7 linked regions of the Homo sapiens genome follow. The protein of the gene in region 7 purifies or fractionates together with the protein of the main gene of each other region. This does not show direct contact. Each region holds a gene or a part of one and is shown on either strand. Other genes may lie near its edges. The genes, in order: ABCB8, ZDHHC13, LRRC8A, TMEM63B, CMTM6, MAOB and TSPAN15.

What was found.
Region 1: the proteins of TSPAN15 (region 7) and ABCB8 purify together in Homo sapiens (affinity purification with mass spectrometry; one large-scale study listed by BioGRID and IntAct). This does not show direct contact.
Region 2: the proteins of TSPAN15 (region 7) and ZDHHC13 purify together in Homo sapiens (affinity purification with mass spectrometry; one large-scale study listed by BioGRID and IntAct). This does not show direct contact.
Region 3: the proteins of TSPAN15 (region 7) and LRRC8A purify together in Homo sapiens (affinity purification with mass spectrometry; one large-scale study listed by BioGRID and IntAct). This does not show direct contact.
Region 4: the proteins of TSPAN15 (region 7) and TMEM63B purify together in Homo sapiens (affinity purification with mass spectrometry; one large-scale study listed by BioGRID and IntAct). This does not show direct contact.
Region 5: the proteins of TSPAN15 (region 7) and CMTM6 purify together in Homo sapiens (affinity purification with mass spectrometry; one large-scale study listed by BioGRID and IntAct). This does not show direct contact.
Region 6: the proteins of TSPAN15 (region 7) and MAOB purify together in Homo sapiens (affinity purification with mass spectrometry; one large-scale study listed by BioGRID and IntAct). This does not show direct contact.

Annotation. Positions count from the first base shown.
Region 1 is NC_000007.14:151,041,950-151,045,449, reverse strand, and holds part of ABCB8 (mitochondrial potassium channel ATP-binding subunit), read right to left. Parts: intron 3,490-3,500; coding exon 3,342-3,489; intron 1,480-3,341; coding exon 1,229-1,479; intron 242-1,228; coding exon 101-241; 3' UTR 1-100. UniProt on the Homo sapiens protein: ATP-binding subunit of the mitochondrial ATP-gated potassium channel (mitoK(ATP)). Together with pore-forming subunit CCDC51/MITOK of the mitoK(ATP) channel, mediates ATP-dependent potassium currents across the mitochondrial inner membrane.
Region 2 is NC_000011.10:19,123,668-19,127,167, forward strand, and holds part of ZDHHC13 (palmitoyltransferase ZDHHC13), read left to right. Parts: intron 1-1,241; exon of another isoform or gene 1,242-1,505; coding exon of another isoform or gene 1,506-1,513; intron 1,514-3,500. UniProt on the Homo sapiens protein: Palmitoyltransferase that could catalyze the addition of palmitate onto various protein substrates. Palmitoyltransferase for HTT and GAD2. May play a role in Mg(2+) transport.
Region 3 is NC_000009.12:128,915,836-128,918,539, forward strand, and holds the end of LRRC8A (volume-regulated anion channel subunit LRRC8A), read left to right. Parts: intron 1-229; exon of another isoform or gene 230-260; coding exon 261-536; 3' UTR 537-2,204; downstream 2,205-2,704. UniProt on the Homo sapiens protein: Essential component of the volume-regulated anion channel (VRAC, also named VSOAC channel), an anion channel required to maintain a constant cell volume in response to extracellular or intracellular osmotic changes.
Region 4 is NC_000006.12:44,141,054-44,144,553, forward strand, and holds part of TMEM63B (mechanosensitive cation channel TMEM63B), read left to right. Parts: coding exon 1-45; intron 46-3,500. UniProt on the Homo sapiens protein: Mechanosensitive cation channel with low conductance and high activation threshold. Osmosensitive cation channel preferentially activated by hypotonic stress.
Region 5 is NC_000003.12:32,492,853-32,496,352, reverse strand, and holds part of CMTM6 (CKLF-like MARVEL transmembrane domain-containing protein 6), read left to right. Parts: intron 1-3,500. UniProt on the Homo sapiens protein: Master regulator of recycling and plasma membrane expression of PD-L1/CD274, an immune inhibitory ligand critical for immune tolerance to self and antitumor immunity.
Region 6 is NC_000023.11:43,767,451-43,770,950, reverse strand, and holds part of MAOB (amine oxidase [flavin-containing] B), read left to right. Parts: intron 1-1,532; coding exon 1,533-1,644; intron 1,645-2,234; coding exon 2,235-2,297; intron 2,298-3,332; coding exon 3,333-3,485; 3' UTR 3,486-3,500.
Region 7 is NC_000010.11:69,482,465-69,485,964, forward strand, and holds part of TSPAN15 (tetraspanin-15), read left to right. Parts: intron 1-1,226; coding exon 1,227-1,412; intron 1,413-2,676; coding exon 2,677-2,751; intron 2,752-3,500. UniProt on the Homo sapiens protein: Part of TspanC8 subgroup, composed of 6 members that interact with the transmembrane metalloprotease ADAM10.

The sequences.
Region 1 (3,500 bases), on a different chromosome or scaffold from region 7:
GCTGGCCCTCCTGGGGGCTCAGTCCCCAGTAGGCTCCCCCAGGCTGAGCCCCAGCCCTAACACTGATGCTTGGCAGCGACCACACCTCAGGGGGCCCTTCTCAGGACTTGTGCTGGTGGCTCCTGGGGCCTTCTGGCTTTTTGGGCGGTGGGGCCGCTGTCCTCGGGGCATCCAGGGCCTGCCTCCGGATGAGCTCGGCGTATAGCCCGCCTTTCTTCAGGAGCTCTTCATGTGTCCCAGCCTGGAAGATGGGAGGGAAGGGCGGATGGTTGCTCCAAGGCATGCAGGCTTCAGAACCCTCAGAGAGCTGAGCCTCTCTATCAGCCATTGGGCCCATGGTCACTTAGGCCGGTGTCCCTTCTGGGGACACTCTGAAACCAATGCCCAATCTGAAAGGAACCGCCACTGGCATGCTGCATTAGTTACTGCCACTTCCTTACTTAGCTGAATTTTGGAAGAACATGATTCCCTCTGTCCCCCTTACAGAGCCCAAGGCTCCAACTCAGGATCCGTCTCCCTGCACGAGCCCCTCAGCCTTGGCTTGAATGAGTGGCTGTTAGCCAACGCCACACGGCCTCTGGGGTCCTACTCCTGACTCCCTGCACAGGTTCCTTGGCGCTGCTTCTCCTGCACCTGATACCCTGGGCAGCTAGCCCTGCTCCTTGCTCCCAGCACCATACTCTGAGTATGTTTCCTTTTTGTTTTTTGAGACAGGGTCTCATTCTGATGCCAGGCTGGAGCGCAATGGCACAATCATTGTTCACTGCAGCCTCAACCTCTGGGGCTCAAGTAATCCTCCCGCCTCCGCCTCCAGAGTAGCTGGGAGTACAGGTGCATGCCACCACATCCGGCTAATTTTTTTTTTTTGGTATTTTGTAGAGACAGGGTCCCGCTATGCTGCCCAGGCTAGCCTCAAGAGATCCTTCTGCCTTGGCTTCCCAAAGTGCTGGGATTACAGGCACCCGGCTAGTACTTTTCCTTTTGATCCTGGGAGCTGATGGTGCAATTATACTATCCCAGGGGACAGAAGAAGAAACTGAGGGCCTGAGAGGCCAGGGCTTGGCTGAATGCAGGAACTCCTGACTCTATATGGGACGCTGCTTCCAGAATATAGCCCCCAAGGCCCTGGGGCCAGGCCACAACTTCATATAACTCATTGCAGCATTGTGCCACTGTCCGTGATGAAGCCATCCTCAACCCACTGATCCACGCCCCCAGGACAACTAACCTCCCAGACACGGCCATCGGCCATGACGACAATGCAGTGGGCCCCACGGACAGTGCTGAGCCGGTGGGCAATTACCAGCACCGTGCGGCCTGCACTGGCCCGGTCCAGGGCCTCCTGTACAACCCGCTCGGACTCTGCATCCAGCGCGCTGGTAGCTTCATCCAGTATCAGCACCGTGGGCTGCTTGATAAGGGCTCGGGCGATGGCCAGGCGCTGCTTCTGGCCCCCAGACAGGGTAGTGCCCCGTTCACCTGGGAAGGGAGGGGCAGGGCAGGAGCCTGAAGCTGTGCACTTGAGGGTGGCCCACAAAGGGGCACAGGGTCCTTCCTGAACGCCCATCAAGATCCTCTAAGTGCCCCTCTCAGCACTGTGCACCCTCCTCCTGCCTCTGACCCCCACCCCGCACTGTGCATCCTCCTCCTGCCTCTGACCCCCCACCCCACACCGTGCACCCTCCTCCTGCCTCTGACCCCCACCCCGCACTGTGCACCCTCCTCCTGCCTCTGACCCCCCACCCCGCACTGTGCACCCTCGTCCTGCCTCTGACCCTCTACCCCGCACTGTGTACGCTCGTCCTGCCTCTGACCCTCCACCTTGCACTGTGCACCCTAGTCCTGCCTCTGACCCTCCACCCCACACTGTGCACCCTAGTCCTGTCTCTGACCCTCCACCCCGCACTGTGCACCCTAGTCCTGTCTCTGACCCTCCACCCCACACTGTGCACCCTAGTCCTGTCTCTGACCCTCCACCCCGCACTGTGCACCCTAGTCCTGTCTCTGACCCCCACCCCGCACTGTGCACCCTCCTCCTGCCTCTGACCCCCCACCCCACACTGTGTACACTCCTCCTCTGGGTTCCCCCTGCACTGGCTCATCCCACCTCTGGGTCCCTCAGCCACTGTGCACACTTGCCCTGCCTCTGAGGGTGGTGTGACACCGCCAGCAGGGCTTGGTGCACTCCAAGGGAGTTGCCAAATGCCCCTCCCCAGCCATGGCAGTGCCTCAGGCCAGGATGACCCACACCCTGCCCTGTGCCTGCAGTTCCAAGCCACCTTCCCAGCCTCCCGGGTCTCTGTGGCTGTGGGGAACATCCAGCACCCAAACATGGGCTCTGGGGTCCAGTGACTCCAGGGAGGTGGGATTCGAAGCCCACAGAGGACAGCACAAGTGGCAGCCTGGGAGCCAAAAAGAACCTCAAGGTGACAGCAGGGTGACAGGTCAGTAAGGACGCAGCCCCAAGAAGGCCCAAATGAGCAGAAAGTACTAGGATCAGAGACACAAGGAAAGTGCCACCCAAAAGAGATGTGGGAGAGCACCCAGTGAGGACAGCTGGCATCTGGACAGTGTATCAACACGGCTGGAGGAGCCATCTAGAACACGATGGCTGGGCTGGGGACACTGGCCCCACAGCTCAGAAGGCTGGACTCAGACTGACCAGAGTTGAGAAGCCCAGGTATCCCTGTATCCTGAGAAGTGCTGAAACACTGTGCAACAGAGCCAAGACACTGGCCGAGAAACATGGCCCCGAAGGCTGGAAAAAGACCTGGGAGCTCCGCACGTCAAGCTGCAAGGTGCACGCCCTGCAGTGCCAGGCTGCGTGTTCCTAGTTCAGAACCACCAGAGCCCTCTCCTGGGGCCCATCCAGTCACCCCGATTCTAATGAGAAACGACTTTAGAGATGAAAAGCACAGGAAGGAAACAGGAGCCAGAGGGGGATGGATGGTGGAGAGGAGGCAGCCCCCCATTTCTTCTGTTCAGTCTGGGGAAGTGGCGGCCTTTTAGACTCGGTGAGGACTCCAAACACCATGCATCACTGTGTCCCTGGCCAGGAGCCTGTCATATGCCCTCTGTCGCATTCTCCAGCTCCTCCTAGAGCCCGTCCTGTCTCTGCAGCCTGCCTGGTCTGCTGGTTCTGAACCACACTGGCCTGGACTCCCCTGTCCCCACACAACGACTCTGTCCCCTTTGGCTGTGGTTCTCGTCTTCCCTGACACAACTGTCTTTCTCCCCAGCTGTCCCTGCTGCCCTCAGTCCCACTGGGCTGCTCACTGCTCCTGTGGAATCCTGTGTCCCAGTGCCTCACCACCTGGTTCCCGGCAGACCCGAGCACCCACCGACGACCGTGTTGTAGCCCTCGGGGAAGCTGGTGATGAACTCGTGAGCATTCGCTTCCCGGGCGGCTGTGTACACCTCTTCATCGGAAGCTTCCAGCTTCCCAAAGCGGATGTTTTCCATGATGGTCGTCCCAAACAGGACGGGCTCCTGTGGGTGAG
Region 2 (3,500 bases), on a different chromosome or scaffold from region 7:
TAATCTTTCTAACCTACAAAGAGAAACAGATATGTGCAATTCATTAGAAAAACAAGTAGACTATGAAAAGGCAATCCACAAAAGAGAAAATATGGAGAGCCAGTATACCTAACAACAACAACAACAACAAACAAAACACTCAGACTCATTAGCAACTAGGGGAGTACAGGTGAAAGATAGGATGCCATTTTTAGCCATCAAAGTGTCAAGGTTGTAAAAAGATTGATAATATTCAGTTCTGGGAAGGTTTGTAGGGAGAAAGAACACGTATATACTTTGCTATTGGGACTGTGAATTGGGGAGAGTATTTGGTCAGAATCTATTTATGTTTAAAATGCACGTTTTTTGACTCAACAGTCCTACTTTGAGGAATCAATCCTATAGAATTAGAATGCCCAGGGTGTTGATTGTGTATAGATATGAAAGGCTGAAATCAACCTGTGTCTCTAACCAAAGGGGAGTGTTGAATGAATTATACTAGATCTATATACAATGGAACAATAGTGAAATATTACTGAACTGCAGGACTGTACATGATATATTGTTACATGAGAAAAGCAAGTTGAAGAATAATGTATATAATGTGATACTATTCTTTGTTCAATAAGTATAAGAAGAAAATGATTAAAAATGTGGATGTATGTATGTATATAGCACAATATTATATATGTTAAAATATATATACATAATGAGGGAAGATGCACCCAATTGTTAATAATGGTTATCTCTGGTGGTACAGTATTGAAGAGGAAAGAGTCCGGATTGTTAACCCTGTATTCACTTCTGTATTGCTAGATCTTTAAAATTAATATGTTATCATTTTATGGTTTTAAAATTCTAGTAAAAATTTTTTATATAAAAATACACTGATTTTTTTTGTCAATCTTAGCTGCACTTTTTGTTATACCTGTTACTTATTGAGATTCTAGAAATTTTTAGTATAGTTCAACTCTTTTCCTCAACCCTTTGCCTTCTTCCAATTGAATATAATTACTGTGATATCAGGAAAAGCATCCTAAAGTAATGTTTTTATTTACATTTTAATCTAACTACCTACATGTTTATTTTTAGCTGTGTGTGATTCTGCGTGTGTGTGGGGGGGTACTGATTATTTACCAGATAAATCAGAATTTACCTATTCAGAAAAGCAGGTGGACTGAAGAAGAAAAAGACCGGAATTCAAAAACCACCAAATCAGTAGCTGATTTACCTTTTTTCTCTCTGATTTGCCCCCAGCCTTGACTTGAGCCCTGGAAATAAGCATCAGTGCAGACGAGTGCTCTATGAGAAGCTATCTAGTTAAAGCTCAAGGAGCCACAAAGGGATTTCCTGGCAGCACAGTCACCAGAAACACTGAGGGAGAACTCTCTGAACAGAGGAATTGTGACCCCAAGACAGTAGTTTTTAGACGTGACACCAAAAGCACAATCCATAAAAGAACAAATTGATAAATTGGACTTTTTTAAAATTTAAAACTTCTGCTCTATGAAACAGACTTTTAAGAGATGGGAAGGTAAGGTACAGACCAGGAGAAAATATCTGCAAATCACATATCTGACAAAAGACTTGTATCTAGAATATATAATATAAAGAACTCTCAAAACTTAACAGTAAGAAAACAAACAGCTCAATTAAAAAATGGACAAAAGACTTGAACAGACACTTCACCAGAGAAGATATACAGGTGGCAAATAAGCATGTGAAAAGATGCTCAACTTCATTAGCCGTTAAGGATATGCAAATTAAGACCATGATGAGATGCCCCTATACATCTATTAGACTGACAATCCCAAGTGCTGGTGAGAATGCAGAACAATTGTAACTCTCATAGTTGTTAGTGGCAATGCAAGGTGATATAGCCAGTCTGGAAAATAGTTTAGCAGTTTCTCATAAATTTAAATATACCTAACATATGGCCAAGCAGTCTTATTCTTAGAGAAATGAAAGGATGTTCACACAAAAGTTTGTCCACGAATATTTTTAGCAGCTCTGTTTATGATTGCCAAAAGCTGGAAAACAACCCACGCAGACTGTTTGGATAGATTATCTGTGACGCACCCATATAGTGGGATACTACACAGCAGTAAAAAAGAAGGAATTATTGATAACATACAACAACTTGGTTAAATCTCAGCACCATTGTGCTGAGTGGAGGAAGCCCCTCCTAAAAGATTGTGTACTGTATGATTCCATTATATGACATTCTGGGAAAGACAGAATTAATGACAACAGATCAGTGGTTGCCAAGAGTTGGTTGGGGTTACGGGAGGGTATGACTGCAAAGGATGATGGTGGCGGTTACGTGACTCCATACATACATGTGTTAAAATTCATACAGCTGTATACCAAAGTTAATTTTACTGTAAATTAACTTTTTAAAAACAGTGCCCCTTCAAAATAATCCCTTGAGGGATTATGGACTCATTTAAGTAAAACTGAAAATTTTAAAACTTTCTTTTAAAAACTTTTGTTTTAGGTTTGGGGATACATGTGCAGGTTTGTTATATACACAAACTTATGTCATGGGGGTTTGTTGTATAGATTATTTCCTTACCCAAGTATTAAGCCTAGTACCCAGTAGTGATTTTTTCTGCTCCTCTCTCTCCTCCCACCCTCCACCCTCAAGTATACCCCAGTGTCTGTTGTTCCCTTCTTCTTTTTTTCTTTTCTTTTTCTTTTTTTTTTTTGCAGTGGAGTCTTGCTCTGTCACCCAAGCTGGAGTGCAGTGGTGTGATCTCGGCTCACTGCAACCTCTGCCTCCCAGGTTCAAGTGATTCTCCTGCCTCAGCTTCCCAAGTAACTGGAACTATAGGCACATACCACCACCCTGGCTAATTTTTTTTTTTTTTTTTTTTTTTTTTTAGTAGAGACGGAGTTTCACCATGTTGACCAGGCTGTTCTTGAACTCCTTACCTCAAGTGATGCACCCACCTTGGCCTCCCAAAGTGCTGAGATTACAGGCATGAGCCACCATGCCCAGCCTGCTGTTCCTTTCTTTGTGTTCATGAGTTCTCATCATTTAGCTCCCACTTATAAGTGAGAACATGCAGTATTTGGTTTTCTGTTCCTGCATAGGGGTAATAGCCTCCAGCTCCATTCGTATTCCTGCAAAAGACATGATCTCATTCTTTTTTATGGCTGCATAGTATTCCATGGTTTATATGTACTACATTTTCTTTACCCAGTTTGTCATTGATGGGCATTTACATTGATTCCATGTCTTTGCTATTGTGAATAGTGCTACAGTCAACATTCACATACATGTGTCTTTATAGTAGAATGATTTATAGTCCTTTGGGTATATACCCAGTAATGGGATTGCTGGGTTGAATGGTAGTTCTGCTTTTAGCTCGTTGAGGAATCGCCATACTGCTTTCCACAATGAACTAATTTTCACTCCCATCAACAGTGTATAAGCATTCCTTTGTCTCTGTAACCTTGCCAGCATCTCTTATTTTTTGACGTTTGAATAATAGCATTCTGACTAGTGTGAAGTGGTA
Region 3 (2,704 bases), on a different chromosome or scaffold from region 7:
GGAAGGATGAGCACTGCGAGTGGGGACATGGGGGCCATGAGACCCAGGAGATCAGGGAAGGCTTCCTGGAGGAAGTGAGCAAGAGCTGAGACCTGGTGCACAGGCAGATGTTGGCCAGAGTTTGGCCCAGATTGTGCTGATGCTGGGGGCCTGGGGATCAGAAAAGATGCTGAGATCTTGGGGAGAGAGGGAAGGGAAGCCCAGAGGCCCCGTCCAAGCCCACACCCACCTCACTCTCACCCCTGCTTTTTTCCCTCCAGATCGAGACGCTCCCTCCGGAGCTCTTCCAGTGCCGGAAGCTGCGGGCCCTGCACCTGGGCAACAACGTGCTGCAGTCACTGCCCTCCAGGGTGGGCGAGCTGACCAACCTGACGCAGATCGAGCTGCGGGGCAACCGGCTGGAGTGCCTGCCTGTGGAGCTGGGCGAGTGCCCACTGCTCAAGCGCAGCGGCTTGGTGGTGGAGGAGGACCTGTTCAACACACTGCCACCCGAGGTGAAGGAGCGGCTGTGGAGGGCTGACAAGGAGCAGGCCTGAGCGAGGCCGGCCCAGCACAGCAAGCAGCAGGACCGCTGCCCAGTCCTCAGGCCCGGAGGGGCAGGCCTAGCTTCTCCCAGAACTCCCGGACAGCCAGGACAGCCTCGTGGCTGGGCAGGAGCCTGGGGCCGCTTGTGAGTCAGGCCAGAGCGAGAGGACAGTATCTGTGGGGCTGGCCCCTTTTCTCCCTCTGAGACTCACGTCCCCCAGGGCAAGTGCTTGTGGAGGAGAGCAAGTCTCAAGAGCGCAGTATTTGGATAATCAGGGTCTCCTCCCTGGAGGCCAGCTCTGCCCCAGGGGCTGAGCTGCCACCAGAGGTCCTGGGACCCTCACTTTAGTTCTTGGTATTTATTTTTCTCCATCTCCCACCTCCTTCATCCAGATAACTTATACATTCCCAAGAAAGTTCAGCCCAGATGGAAGGTGTTCAGGGAAAGGTGGGCTGCCTTTTCCCCTTGTCCTTATTTAGCGATGCCGCCGGGCATTTAACACCCACCTGGACTTCAGCAGAGTGGTCCGGGGCGAACCAGCCATGGGACGGTCACCCAGCAGTGCCGGGCTGGGCTCTGCGGTGCGGTCCACGGGAGAGCAGGCCTCCAGCTGGAAAGGCCAGGCCTGGAGCTTGCCTCTTCAGTATTTGTGGCAGTTTTAGTTTTTTGTTTTTTTTTTTTTAATCAAAAAACAATTTTTTTAAAAAAAAAGCTTTGAAAATGGATGGTTTGGGTATTAAAAAGAAAAAAAAAACTTAAAAAAAAAAAGACACTAACGGCCAGTGAGTTGGAGTCTCAGGGCAGGGTGGCAGTTTCCCTTGAGCAAAGCAGCCAGACGTTGAACTGTGTTTCCTTTCCCTGGGCGCAGGGTGCAGGGTGTCTTCCGGATCTGGTGTGACCTTGGTCCAGGAGTTCTATTTGTTCCTGGGGAGGGAGGTTTTTTTGTTTGTTTTTTGGGTTTTTTTGGTGTCTTGTTTTCTTTCTCCTCCATGTGTCTTGGCAGGCACTCATTTCTGTGGCTGTCGGCCAGAGGGAATGTTCTGGAGCTGCCAAGGAGGGAGGAGACTCGGGTTGGCTAATCCCCGGATGAACGGTGCTCCATTCGCACCTCCCCTCCTCGTGCCTGCCCTGCCTCTCCACGCACAGTGTTAAGGAGCCAAGAGGAGCCACTTCGCCCAGACTTTGTTTCCCCACCGCCTGCGGCATGGGTGTGTCCAGTGCCACCGCTGGCCTCCGCTGCTTCCATCAGCCCTGTCACCACCTGGTCCTTCATGAAGAGCAGACACTTAGAGGCTGGTCGGGAATGGGGAGGTCGCCCCTGGGAGGGCAGGCGTTGGTTCCAAGCCGGTTCCCGTCCCTGGCGCCTGGAGTGCACACAGCCCAGTCGGCACCTGGTGGCTGGAAGCCACCCTGCTTTAGATCACTCGGGTCCCCACCTTAGAAGGGTCCCCGCCTTAGATCAATCACGTGGACACTAAGGCACGTTTTAGAGTCTCTTGTCTTAATGATTATGTCCATCCGTCTGTCCGTCCATTTGTGTTTTCTGCGTCGTGTCATTGGATATAATCCTCAGAAATAATGCACACTAGCCTCTGACAACCATGAAGCAAAAATCCGTTACATGTGGGTCTGAACTTGTAGACTCGGTCACAGTATCAAATAAAATCTATAACAGAAAGTGGCCTTTGGAGGTCTTTGTGTCATGGGAGGACGCTTCCCTCACTTCTCTGAAGCCTGCCGGGCCGTGTGGAACGTTGCTTGGGCACCTACAGGAGAGTTAACTCTGCTCATCTCCTGCCCCATGAGACTCTGTGCCTTTGGAGGCAGTTACTGGAGCTTGTAAGCTGGACGCAGCACCTGCTAGGTAACAGGCTGTGACCTGGGCTGGGGATCCCATAGCCAGCACAATCTCTGTCATCCTACTCACCTGTGGTTGGGCACTCATGAGGGGGTTTTTTTGTTGTTGTTGTTTTTTTGACAGGGTCTCATTCTGTCACCTAGAGTGCACTGCTGGAATATAGTGGCGTGATCACGGCTCACTGCAGCCTTGACCTCTCCAGGCTCAGGTGATCTCACCTCGGCCTCCCAAGTAGCTAGGACCACAGGGGCATGCTGGCTAATTTTTTTTTTTTTTTTTTTTTTTTGAGACAGAGTCTTACTCTGTCACCCAGGCTGGAA
Region 4 (3,500 bases), on a different chromosome or scaffold from region 7:
AATCTCCAAATATGCAGAGTCAGAAAAGATCAAGAAGCATTTTGAGTGAGTAAGCCACGCTTCCCCCTACCCTCAAGCCCTGCTGCAGAGCCTTCTCTGCCTTTGAACTCTAAGAACATCCTTATACCCTAGCCTGGAGCTCTGCCGTGGGTGGGATAGAGATTAGATCCAGGAAGAAATGTCCGATTCCAGGGTGGTTTAGCACTTGGGTCGGGTGATAGGCCCCTTTAAGAACAGGAAAAATAAGACAAAAACCTGAAGAGTGAGTCATTCAAACCCCCTAACCCCCAAACCTCCTCCTGGCTCAGACTGGGTCATAGGTTGTTGACCCAGGTCCATTGGAGTACATATCTTCTTCAAAATTAAAAGCAGCATTCTGGAGTTTGTGTGCAGCCATGACAGGGAGAAGCTCCTTGGTTTCCAGTGGATTCCAAGGAGTCCAGGAGAACTTGAACTGTGTATTCTCTGAGGCTTTTTCAGCTCTAGAATTATGTTTTGGGGTGGGTAGAGCAGACCTATGGCCAGAAACTAGAGAAAAGGGAGGTGGTATAATGAGGCAAAGAGGGAACTTACCTGGTCACCCCATGGCTAGGGATGCACCTTGGGGCGCAGCTCATAGGGTGGGGAATCAGTGAAGGGCCCCTCCATGGGGGTGTGTAGGGACAGTCTCTATACCACAGGATTAGGGCTACTCTCACACAGGCATCTGTTCACTCAGCAAACTTTCTCAAGTGCTGTTAGTCATAAGTTACTGTGGTGGGCTTTGGGACTGTAAAAAATGAATGAGGCCAGGCATGGTGGCTCATGGCTGTAATCCCAGCACTTTGGGAGGCCAAAGTGGGCAGATCACTTGAGCCCAGGAGTTGAAGACCAGCCTGGGCAACATAGCAAGACCCCATCTCTACCAAAAAATACAAACTTAGCCAGGTGTGGTGGCGTGCGCCTGTAGTCCCAGCTACTTGGGAGGCTGAGGTGGGAGGATCGCTTGAACCCAGGAGGTCGAGGCTGCAGTGAGTCCTGTGCACCACTGCACTCCAGCCTGGGTGACAGAGCAAGACCCTGTTTCAAATGTTTCAAAAAATAAAAAATAGAAGAGGCCAGGCACGGTGGCTCACGCCTGTAATCCCAACACTTTGGGAGGCCCAAGATGGGAGAATTACTTGAGGCCAGGAGTTCAAGACCAGCCTGGTCAGTATAATGAGACCCCATGTCTTAAAAAAAAAAAAAAAAAAAATCATTGAGGGCCGGGAGTTTGAGACCAGCCTGGCCAATATGGTGAAACCCCGTCTCTACTGGTGAAACCTTGTCTCTACTGAAAATACAAAAATTAGCCAGGCATGGTGGCGCGTACCAGTAGTCTCAGCTACTCAGGAGGCTGAGGCAGAAGAATCGCTTGAACCCAGGAGGCAGAGGTTGCAGTGAGCCGAGATTGTGCCACTGCACTTCAGCCTGAGCGGCAGAGCGAGACTGTCTCAAAAAAAGAAAAAAAAATCATTGAGTTCTCAGGGGGTTCATAGTATGGCAGTCGGCTTTAGGAGCTAGTCCAGGGTCTGATCAGAGATTGCTCTGAGGTCAGTCTGTGGTCAGAATCAGGAGCTGGCCAGTGGTCATGATAAAGGATGCTGGTGGTCTGGATCATGGCCCAGACTGAGGTTGAGATTTGGGCTCAGTCTACCATCAGAATCAGGGTTTAGGCCAGGTGTGGTGGCTCATGCCTGTAATCCCCTTGAGAAGATTGCTTGAGCCCGGGAGTTTAAGACCAGCCTGGACAACATGTCGAAACTCCATCTCTACAAAAAATATAAAAATTAGCCAGACATGGTAGCATGCACCAATAGTCCCAACTACTCAGGTGACTGAGGTGGGAGGATGGCTTGAGCCCAAGAGGCTAATGCTGTGGTGAACTGATTGCGCCACTGTACTCCAGCCTGGGTAATAGGGCAAGACCCTGTCTCAAAAAAGAAAGAAAGTAAAGAATCAAGGTTTAATCTGAGGTCCAGACCTGTCAGTTGGCCAGAATCAGAGTTCACTCATTGTCCTGGGTCAGGCCAGTGTGTGATCCAATCAGAGATAGTGTTTGGGCAGGATTGAGAGTGAACATCTATCTGGTCAGGGTCAGATTCCAGAGCCTGTGTTAGAAGATTAAGGACTGGTGTGTGATCAGCATTAGTAGATGGATACTCTTTCATACTACATGCAGTTATTGACAACCTTCTATGTGCCAGGCACAAATAAATTAGAAACAAGCCCAGCCCTTATACAGGCTATAAAACAGCAGTCAAAATTAGATCATTCTTGTCAGTATGAGAGAACTATTTGGGGTCCTATCTGAGGTTCAAGCTGTCATCAGCATTAAAGGGCACTCTGGGTCAGGATTAAGGACAGTGTGTACTCAGAATTAGTGACATCTTTTTTTTTTCTCATACCATCTTTTGTAACAATGAATTAGGTGACATCTTAATATTACCATCCAGTTGGAATCAGTTGTCAGCTTGTATTGAAATCTGGTGTTTGTTGTTTTTGTTTTTGTTTTTGTTTTTTGATACAAATATCTAGTGAGCACCTGCTATGTGCCTGCTTGGGGAGGAGCTGGGGGTATAGCAGTAAACGACAGAAGGCCTGCCCTCATTTGCTTTCATTTTAGTGGGGAGGGGTGGACAGGGACCGGATGAACTAGTAATAGAGACTGTGTCAAGAAGAGGTAGGTGCTAAGAAAACCACAGCAGGGAAGCAGGCAGGGTAAGAGGGGTTGGGAAGGGTTGCTATTTCTGATGGGATAGACAGGGAGGGACTCTGACAGCGTGGCATTTGAACAGAGACCTGAGTGAACCCTACTAGTCAACTGTCTATTCATTCAGCCCACATTTATTGTATACCTACTATGTGCTTCATGCCTGGGAGACAGAGTATAATCAGACCTGATCAGTGCCCTTGGGAAGCTGAAGATCCTAGTTGTGTTTCAGGGGTTGGTCTATAGTTTTGTTTAGGAGAGGTCAGCCTATAAGCAGGGGTAAGGGAGACTCTAGTCCTAATTGGAGTTTTTTGGATCACTGGGATGAGCATTATGGAGTAGCCATTTCATTGATCCGCTCATTTACCACATGTGTATTGAACACCTGCTATATACAAGCTGTTGGGACAGGGCTGGGTATATGGTGAGGACTAAGAGACAGCGCTTGAGCTCATTGTCAGGATTAGGCAGGGCTTGTGGTCCAAGTCTGCAGTCTGTCTGGATTGGAAGACTGTCTCAGCACAATTAGGAAATATCTTGCATGCAAATCAACGGGCCTGTGTGGTTGGATTTAGAGGATTAGAGATGAGTTTAGTGAGAATGAGAGCTCACCCTTCCAAAGGGGAAACCTCAAATGGTTTGAGGAACAATATCAGAGGAAAGGTCTCTAGCCTCCTGGGAAGTACATCTCAAGGACCCTATCCCAGATTTAAGTTTCTAAATTCTCATGGGTTTATGAGGACTATCTTAATACTTTAGAACAGTAACT
Region 5 (3,500 bases), on a different chromosome or scaffold from region 7:
GCCTTGGCTTCCTAAAGTGCTGGGATTACAGATGTGAGCCATCGCATCTGGCCGACAGAATTTCATATTGACTATAGCTTGTAGTGCCAATTTGTTGGCCTTTAACTTGAGATGGGAGCTAGTAAATGTCCACACTTTTTTTTTTTTTTTTTTTGAGATAGTCTCGCTTTGTCACCCAGGCTGGAGTGTAGTAGCGCCATCTTGGCTCACTGGAACCTCTGCCTCCTGGGTTCAAGCAATTCTCATGCTTCAGCCACCCAAGTAGCTGGGATTACAGGCATGCGCCACCATGCCCAGCTAATTTTTCTATTTTTAGTAGAGATGGGGTTTTGCCATGTTGGCCAGGCTGGTCTTGAACCAGGTTGGCCAGAAGGCCTCAAGTGATCTGCCCGCCTTGGCCTCCCAGAGTGCTGGGATTACAGGTGTGAGCCACTGTGCCCTGCCAGATGTCCATACTTAATATTGTACTCCTTGATTCTCTTAAGATGTCCAGGCAGAACCTGCTTCCTGCTATTGCTCTGAGGCAATAGGTCAGTAAGGTCAGTAGGAATGCCACCTGTTAATACGTTTGGAATAGGACTTGTAATGACTTGAGACTGACTGCTTCTGGACAAGCTGGATCCTGTCTTTTTTTACTGAAAGTAGACAAGCAGCCTATGTCTGTCCTACAGATAACCTTTTATTGCCATATAGCCTTCACACATGAGTGTGCCTAATAGTCTAATTGTAAAATGAGTGGTTCAGCTATTCCCAGACCCTAATTAGAGTTTTAGGCTGGTATCTTCTCTCAGTTAATTGACTTTTATACAACCGAGGTATATTTTGTAAATTTCTCAGAGAGAAACTTTTAAAACTTGGACAAGATTTAACATAGAGGCAAGAAAAAGGCAAGTGAAATGTTAGATATTTAGTATTTTATTAGACTATAGTCATGTTAGAACTCATCCTGTAAGTATGATTATAGGAGACTAAGGAAGTATCTTTACACAGTGGCCCTCTGGGATTTATCTTGGTGTTGTCACTTTATATCCTGTGGTGTAATGATTGGGAATGCCTTACCTAACACCTGTCTGAAGGAAGTTGTTTGGGACATGCTGGGCTATTTCATGCTTCACTAACTTACAGGAAATCAGAGAATGTAACCATTCATGTTACAATTAGACTATTTTTTTTCTTTTATATAAATTCTTTGCAGTTGTGGGGATGTATACATTTTGTATAGCCAGTAGAAGGGAGAGGAAATCCCTTAAAGGTTTGGATACCAGTATAGATTTGAATTACTATTTTTTAACTTTTTATTTTGAAATTATTATAGATTCACAGGAATTGCAAAAAAAAAAAGTACAGGGAGGTCCCACATTTGTATGTGCATGTGTGTGTAATTCTATGTAATTTTACCATGTGGATAGCTTTCTATAATTACCACCACAATCAAGACACAGAACTGTGCCATCAGCAGAGGCTTCCCTGTGCTACCCCTTTGTAGCCACACCTTTCCCCTTTCTCTTGGCTGCCACTAATTTGTTAGCCATCATTATTATTTTTATTATTCTAAGAATGGGCTATGAATGGAATCATGCAATATGTAACCTTTTGAGATTGGATTTTTTTTTTCCTTTGAATAATTCTCTGGAGATTCATCTAGGACATTACATATATCAAGTTTGCTCCTTTTTATTGCTAATATTCCATGGTATGGATGTACCACAGTTTGTTTTAACCATTGGACATCTGGAATGTTTCTAGTTTGGGGCTACTATGAATAAAATTGTTATAAACATTCACGTACCGGTTTTTGTACAAATGTTAAGTTTTCATTTCTCTGAGATAGTTGCCCAAGAGTTCTATTTCTGGGTCATATGGTAGATATATGCTTAGTTTTTAAAGAAACCGCTGAACTGTTGTTTGTCCCTTTTTAATGAAAATGTTTTGTAGGATAAGATATTTACTATTACTATGAAATGTATCTGTTGATTTTGGTAGCAATCTTGTTGCCATTAACCTGTCTGGTTGCTTCTACTGGCCTGACTGGAGTGAGAAGGGAATTCCCTTTAGCCTCTGACTTAGGTCATCAGTCATTTTGATGGTTTCGGCCCTCAGCAGGAAATTCCCTCAGCTTCCACAAAACCCACACAAACTGCCCAAGCAAAATACTCTTCTTCACTCTCTTCCCTTCTATTTCTAGAGAAGAGTTAGCCCCAAACCTGAGCCCTGAATCCTATCTTTAGAGAGCCATTTTTCTACCTATGTCTTTAGACCCACCCATCTTACTGGTTTCTGCCTAAGTATTTAAACATGCTCAGTTCTCCCATGTTGAAATTCCCTTCTCTTTGACCTCATCCACTACTGCCCTATCTGGCCATTCTTTCCCAGCCACACTTATTGCCTATGCTGTCTCTCCTTCACTGCCTTACCCTCCCCTTACTTCCCAATATACAGTATTGTAATCGAGCTTCTCTCCCTGACTACCCTGGAACTTTTCTTGCTAATGTCACTGGCAACCTTCTTATAGCTCAGTCTAAGGTAGGTGTTTCAGTGTTGTTCTTACTTGACCTTTAAGTAGCATTTAGCACTCTTGATTACTTGTGTGTTTGTGCATGTGTGTGTAAATACTTTTTTCTTGTTTACTACCCCTTTGATTGCTGCTGCTAGTTGTCCTTTGCTGGTTTCTTCCCCTCTGCATATCCCGTAAATCTTCAGATTCCTCAGATTTCCACATAAGGCTATCTTTCCTCATTTGAGTCATCTCACCCTCCCACTCTGCCAGCTCCCACATCTTTATCTGCATCTTAGACCTCTCCTTTGAGCTCCAGACCTTATATTCATTTGCTTTCCAACTACATCTTCACCAAACTCTTCCACAGACCTCCTCAATCACAGCATATTTAAAACTGAATTTCTTCTCTCCCTAGCACCCTTGCCTTTTAAAAAGAAAAAAACCTGACTCTTTTTTCAGTGAGGACCAGTATGTTAGTACCACATATACAGCAGTTGGAAGTAGTTAAAACCCACTTGCGTGTAATTGAGTTGCCAATTTAACCAGAGTTAACATTCTCCACTCACCATACCAAGCATCCTGACCTCACACCAGTCACCCACAGCCTGCCATGGCCAGTAGGCATCTCATTAGCACTCTAGAACTCTTGCTTCTGTCATCAGTTGAGTTGTGTTGTTCCCATACTGGTTTATGCTAACTATACTTTTATGGCCATACAGTTAAATATTACAAAGCTGAAACTGAGTGTTAAAATGAATTGTTTCTTTAAAACTAAATTGAATGCTTTGGAAAGACTGAAAGATAACTTACTACAAGATTTATCTGCCATGGAATTAAGGAAGAGCAAGGCAACTGTAAAAGGCTGGTAAAATAGTCTGACTCTAGAAAGATTCTGAACTCTGTTTCTCAAGTGTTTAAGATCTCACTTCACTTCAGATAACATCAGTCTGGAAGTAGTAGTCCATAGATGATGAAAGTGATTAATGCAGAAAACATGTGGAAT
Region 6 (3,500 bases), on a different chromosome or scaffold from region 7:
GACAGGATGAATAATGGCATGTTGACGGTGCTTTCCTTATGGTATTTTTGTCAGAGCAACAATGAACTGCCCCTCTTACAGGCCAAGTGCTATGACATTTCAGTCCCTTGTATAGCATGTGGGCAGTCTACTAACTATTAAATATTATAGGGTGATGATACACCAGGCAAAGAATATAAGATAAAAATAGAGACTTTGACATCTGTTAGACATGGTTCAAATCCTGGCTTTGCTATTTTCTAGGAGTGTGGCTCTTGGCATATCACTGAACATTTCTCCAAGCCTCAGTCTTCTCATATGTAAAAATGAGATAATGATAATAGTAGCTACATCACAGAGTTCTTTAATAGATTGAAGAAATAATGCAGTAGAGAGAGGAAGTATAACTAAGTGGTTAAGACTGTAGGTTCCAGAGTCAGATTGCCTGTGTTCAAATACCAACTCTGCTACTTACTAGCTGTGACCGAGAGCAAATTACTTTGTCTTTGTTGCTGGTTAGGTTCCAGGAAGCAGACCCTGAAACAACGATTAGCAGACAGGATATATATTAAGGCATGCCCTTAGGATTGGCAGCTGTGGAAGGGAGAAGGAAGCAGGAGTGGGCATAGGGAGAACTTGGGCTGCAGTGCAGTTCCAGTGAAGGCCTCAGCTGACCCCAGAGGAAGTTCCAGAACTAGAATGGCCCTTCAGAGTGGGAGGTCTCAAGTTGGAGCTTGGGAATCAGGTATTTACAGCCCGTGGTGATCAGTCACTGGATGCAACTGCTATTGGAAGGAGGCATGACCTAGTAGGTAACATAGTTTTTTTTAGCAGAGGCAATCTCCAAAGAGGGCTGACATCAGTAGGCCCTCTTCTGGCAGCACTCCCAGCAGCTGGGAATAAGTCTTTCATTCTTGAAGGGGGCCTGCGTGGTTCATCACAATGTCCACCACAGTCTACCTCCATATTCTTATCTGCAAAATGGTGATAATAATAGTACCGACCTCACCAGTACAGGCAAGTGTTCAAGGAATAGGAGTTATGGAGCCATAGTCAGACTCTCAGATTTGTTAAATGTTACTGATTGAAAGGGTCTTAGAAATCAGTGGACCATTCCCTTTAAGAGGCAAGGAAGCCAGAGCACAGTGAGAGTAAGTGATTTGCCAAGTTCACTAGTGGAATAGCCAGTGGGGAATTGGGGGCATGTATCACCTTGCCACAGAGCCAGTGAGCCATAAAGGGAGCCATGTGACTGGGCTTACACAGTCCCTCACTTCATGTTGATGAAGCAAATACATAATTTACGTCCATTAATGTCAGCTCCTTCACCTGCAACTCTTGGTGCAGGAGTGAACTTTGGCTTTTATTCTATTTTGTTTGTGACAAGGATCATGTAAGAGCTGGAGGAACCACATAAACATTATTCCAAAATTGCCAATGTCCTTCTTGATTGTTTAGAATCTGTGGAAGCTGACCAGCATTGGTCTTTATGGGAAAACTTTTCTCTGACTCTCTGAGACTGACCACTTTTGCCTCTTTGGTTTTGTTCCAAGGGTTCTACGCCAGCCAGTGGACAGGATTTACTTTGCAGGCACCGAGACTGCCACACACTGGAGCGGCTACATGGAGGGGGCTGTAGAGGCCGGGGAGAGAGCAGCCCGAGAGGTAGGGTCTGGGGTCATAGATTATGGGGAAGGAGGCAACTCATGGTCCTGACATGTAGGTCAAAGATATCTGAGAGCCTGGAGACCAACTCTCCAGTAACCCCCATCTTAAGACCCATAAAATACTATTTTAACTATTGTCTCAGGTGAAGTGAACACCTTAGCCCGAAGTAATAATGAAAATACCTAACATGTCACCCGAAGTAAAAAGAGCCCATGGGGCAAACGATCAACCTGACTATACTTGAAAGGTAACCTAGGTCTGATATTCTAGAACCAAACATGCTTCTATTAGGACTCAAAATTCAATTCATTTCACAGGAAAGATTTTCTGACAGTTCCTCTGATGTCATCCCTATTTGAGGTGTGTTCATAACTATTAAAATTTATGGTAAGCCTAATGATTGGAACCTCTTATACCACAGGAGAAAGACCTTTTGGCGCCTCTTAAAGGTTGTATGGAGTGTTCTGGCCTTTACCTTGGTGTTTTTGATGGATATCTCAAGAGACAGTTACTTAGTCCTTTAGGGAGCAGATTAGAAGAAAGATGGTGTCACTTTTGCTATTTGCCAGTGTGTTCTTTCATTTCAGATCCTGCATGCCATGGGGAAGATTCCAGAGGATGAAATCTGGCAGTCAGAACCAGAGTCTGTGGTAGGCTATGTTTTATTTCATGAAATTAGATATCTTTTCTCTAAACCCATTATTTTCAAGAAGAGCACACTTGTATATATTCACATACCTTTTCCTAAGTGATTCAACTAAGTGATTTAAACATGAATGTTTAAATAAGTATCATGGGTTAGGGTAGAGGTGAGAGATTTAGATGAACTTTGATAAATTTGTAGCTGTCACATTCATTACAGATTATTAGGAAAAAATATTTTTTGATGAGGAGGGAGACATTTCTCGGAGACTTCTAAAAATAATAACTCAATAAATGCCTGTCAAATAAATATCTAGCCTGGTGATTCTCCACATGAGGTAGGAAAAGAAAGGAAAGTGTGTTAGCATCTCCTGTCCAGGGACAAACAAATGGAATGAAATGGAGAATATTTAGATTAAAATTTTATTTTTAATATACTCATCATTTTTGTAATAAAATCCTAGGAAGTTTTCCTGGCTGGAAGGAGGGATGCATAGAGGTTAGAGTGCAAACGCACTTTAGAGGACAAAGTCACAAAGGTCAGAATTATTGCTCTATCCTTTTAAGTGTGAAGTCAAAGAGAATAGGCCTGCCACTCCACAGTCATTCTCTTAGTGCTTCTGCCAGGGATGGGATTGTGGGCTGTAGGGACCATTGATTCATTTACTAACAAGTATTTATGGCACACGTGTTCTGTATCAGCCATTGTGGCAAAGGCACAGCAGCATTTTTGTGGAGCTCAACATCTGGTGGAGAATGCAGATGATAACCAAAAAGTACAGAACAGTGAAGAAGACATGCTGAGAAAAAATGCAAAAGGAGAATGTCATCCTAGGCTGGGGTCTCAGGAAAGAAAGCCTCCCTGAGGAAGTGAAGGGTCCAGTGAGGAAGACAGGGTAAACAGTATAAGCAGAGGGAACATCGTGTTTACTGGTCTAGACGTTGGCAAGAATGGGTCATGTTCAGAGAGCTGGAGAAAGTACAGACTTTCTGGAATAAAGTGCACAAGCCCTGTACTAATACCCAATGTTTTCTGAACCTAGGATGTCCCTGCACAGCCCATCACCACCACCTTTTTGGAGAGACATTTGCCCTCCGTGCCAGGCCTGCTCAGGCTGATTGGATTGACCACCATCTTTTCAGCAACGGCTCTTGGCTTCCTGGCCCACAAAAGGGGGCTACTTGTGAGAGTCTAAAGAGAGAGGGTGTCT
Region 7 (3,500 bases):
CTGCTCCAACCTTTGGCCTTCTCTGTGGTCATCCTGAAAGTAAATTCCGTGTTATGGTACTGTGTGAAATGTCTGTTGCCCTGAGCACGGGGTGACCTGCCTGTTTAATACGCGTTGTGGCGGCCTCGCACTTCCAGGTTTGTAGTGTTTCCACATTCATTCACTCGCGAAAGCCGTGGTGTGAGCAGTGCAGAAATGAATGTCTTCAAGTCTGTCTTTCAGATGAGAACACAGACTCACATGGTCAAATGCCTGTCCAAGGCCCAGGGTTAGCAAGTAGCAGAGCTGGGGCTCGAACCCATGTTCTCTGACCCTCCAGCCAGTGGCATTTCCCCTAACCCATCTATACTCTCCTCTAAAGTGGCATCTCCAGATTGGGTCTGTAGTAGTCTGCTAGGGCTGCCATAACATCAAGTACCAGACTGAATGGCTTAAACAATAGACATTTATTTTCTCACAGTTCTGGAGGTTAGAAGTCCAAGATCAAGGTGGCAGGGTTGATTTTTTTTTTTTGTTGTTGTTGTTGTTGTTTTTTGTTTTTTGAGACCGAGTCTCGCTCTGTTGCCCAGGCTGGAGTGCAGTGGCACAATCTCGGCTCACTGCAAGCTCCACCTCCTGGGTTCACGCCATTCTCCTGCCTCAGCCTCCCGAATAGCTGGGACTACAGGTGCCCGCCACTATGCCCGGCTGCTTTTTTGTATTTTTAGTAGAGACAGGGTTTCACAGTGTTAGCCATGATGGTCTCGATCTCCTGGCCTCGTGATCTGCCCGCCTCGGCCTCCCAAAGTGCTGGGATTACAGGTGTGAGCCACCGCGCCCGGCCTGCAGGGTTGATTTCTTCCGAGGCTTGTCTCTGGCTTGTAGACGCTGCCTTCTCCCTGCGTGTTCACACAGTCTTCCCTCTGTGAGTGTCTGTGTCATAATCTCTTCCCCTTATAAGGACACCAGTCATATTGGATTAGGGCCACCTTAGTGACCTCATTTTAACTTTAATTAGTTCTTTAAGGGCCCTGTCTCCAAATATAGTCACATTTCGAGGTACTGGGGGTTAGGATTTCAATAGAGAAAATTTGGGGAAACACAGTTCAGCCGCTAACAGGGCCCTTTCTGTGCTGTAACCTGGGGCAAGCCTCCCCCACAGCAGGTACCACAGCCCCAGATGACTCTTTGCTGTAGAAAATCAAGTGACCTCAGTCTCTCTCTCACCCTCTGTTTTCTTGCTGCAGCTGATTGGGGCCCTGGTCCTGTCTGTGGGCATCTATGCAGAGGTTGAGCGGCAGAAATATAAAACCCTTGAAAGTGCCTTCCTGGCTCCAGCCATCATCCTCATCCTCCTGGGCGTCGTCATGTTCATGGTCTCCTTCATTGGTGTGCTGGCGTCCCTCCGTGACAACCTGTACCTTCTCCAAGCAGTGAGTGGACCACACCACCCCTCAGCCGGGACTCCCCAGGAGAGCTGGGGCGCCTGCCCCTGTGCCCTTGGGCAGCTCAGTTTCTTTTGTCCCTGCCTCAAACCACCTCCTTTAGAGAGCTCCTTAGATCAGCCCATCTGACCACACTGGCCCAAGAATGCCCAGGCCACCTCCCCTCCTGCATGTAAAAGCTGATTTGAATACTGTTCTTACTTAAACTCTGTGTTCATCTGGATGCTCAGTTGCGAGTAGGAAAAACCACACTCAAATGAGAGCAAGCAAAGACAAAAAAAGGAGATGGTAGTGAGTCATTAGCTCATGCAACCAGCAAACCCACACTGGGTCCAGGGGTTTAGATGGCGCCACTGGGCAGGGTTGGGCAATCTCCCCAGCCCCTGCCAGCCGGGGCTGCTCCCTTTGCAGTGGTCACTGCCGGCGTCAGGCCAACAAAGTCCTTATGGTTCTAGATCTCAGGAAATCTTTCCTACCAGCTCTGGCCAAAGTCCCAGGACTCTGGTGGGCCTGGCTTGGGCCATGTGCCCATTCTGGGATGGGGCATGGGGAGTCAATCCTACCTGTATCCCATTATTGTGGGGTGAGGGATGACTCCCTAAAGCTGGGGGTAGTGAGTAGGCAGATCCATTCACTCTGCACTTGTGTGTCTCTTGACCTCATTGTCTCCCCTCATATGGGAAGCCCCTACGATCCACTGTAAACCGGGTTTGGGTGCTACTTGAGGCTGGAATTTGCTGAAATCAGTTTGGGTAATGCCTGCTCTCTAGTAAAGGGCAGAGGTGGGGGTGCATATCCTCTAAGCTTCAGCCATCCCCCTCACCCACTGTGGGGGATCTGGGAAGTCACATCTGAGGGCTCTCTGTGGGGAGCTGGACATACTGCCCCAGCCTGCCCATTAAGCCAGGCCTAGCCCCTCTGGCTCAGTGGCAACGAGGCCCAGCTCTCCTTATGGTGGTGGGGGAAGGGCGTGCTCTTCCACATAGACCCCCAAGACAAATGGAGGTAACCATTTGGCTGGGACAGCTGAGTCACTCTTCCTGCCCTCCGGCTCCAGAGACAGGTTTTCCTGGGGCCTGCCTGTCCACGTCCACGTTCTCACAGGAGGAGGGGGCAGAGGCCTAGGAGCTGGTAGGAGCTCCCCGAGGGATGCTTCTCTTTGTGCTTGCTCTTGGAGCAGATGGTGCCTCCCCTGTACCCCACACACGCCCACTGCTCCTCTCCAGGTGAGTCTCTGAATTCTGTTTTCCAGTTCATGTACATCCTTGGGATCTGCCTCATCATGGAGCTCATTGGTGGCGTGGTGGCCTTGACCTTCCGGAACCAGGTGGGCCTGTGGATTTGTGTATCGGCCATGTGTGTATGGAGCACCCACTGTGGGTGCCTTGGGCTAACTGGGGGTATGGCAGTGAGCAGGGCAGATAACCCCCATGGAGCTTTCATTCTGCTGAAAGAGAATGACAGGCACTGAACAAGTAAAGCAGCGACTAAGAAAATGAACCAAGCTGACATGAGAGCGCCTGGGGAGGAGATGGGAGGCCCGTGCTGAAATGGTAAAAGGAGCCAGCTGAGTGAGGTCCCAGCAGAGGGAAGCTGAGCAGAAATGAGCTTAGCATGTGAGCAAAACAGCGTGGAGGCCACGTGGCTGAGGGTAGGTGGGGTGGAGAGGGGTGGAAGGTGAAGTCGAAAGGGCTGGCCAGGCAGATCACAGAGGTCCTTGTAGGCCATGAGTTGGGAGCTTGGAGTTTTTTCTAGAGGTGACAGGAGCCTTTGGAGAGTCTTATGTGGGAAGCGATGTGACCCAGTTTATATTGTACCATGGCTGCTGAGTTGGGGAATGGACAGTGAAGAGTTGAGGGTGTACACAGGGGCCCAACTGGGAGGCTGTGGGGGGTCATCCTGGGAATGGGGTAAGATTGCTTGTACCAAGGTGGAGGCAGTGGGCCTGGGCCAAAAAGGCGATTTGATGTATATTTTGGAGGCAGTACCATCAGAGGCTGTTATGCCGGCTAGAGGAGTGAGGAGAGGGGCAGGTTGACAGGGTGATGCCTGGCATCCTGGCCCTGGCAGGGTTTG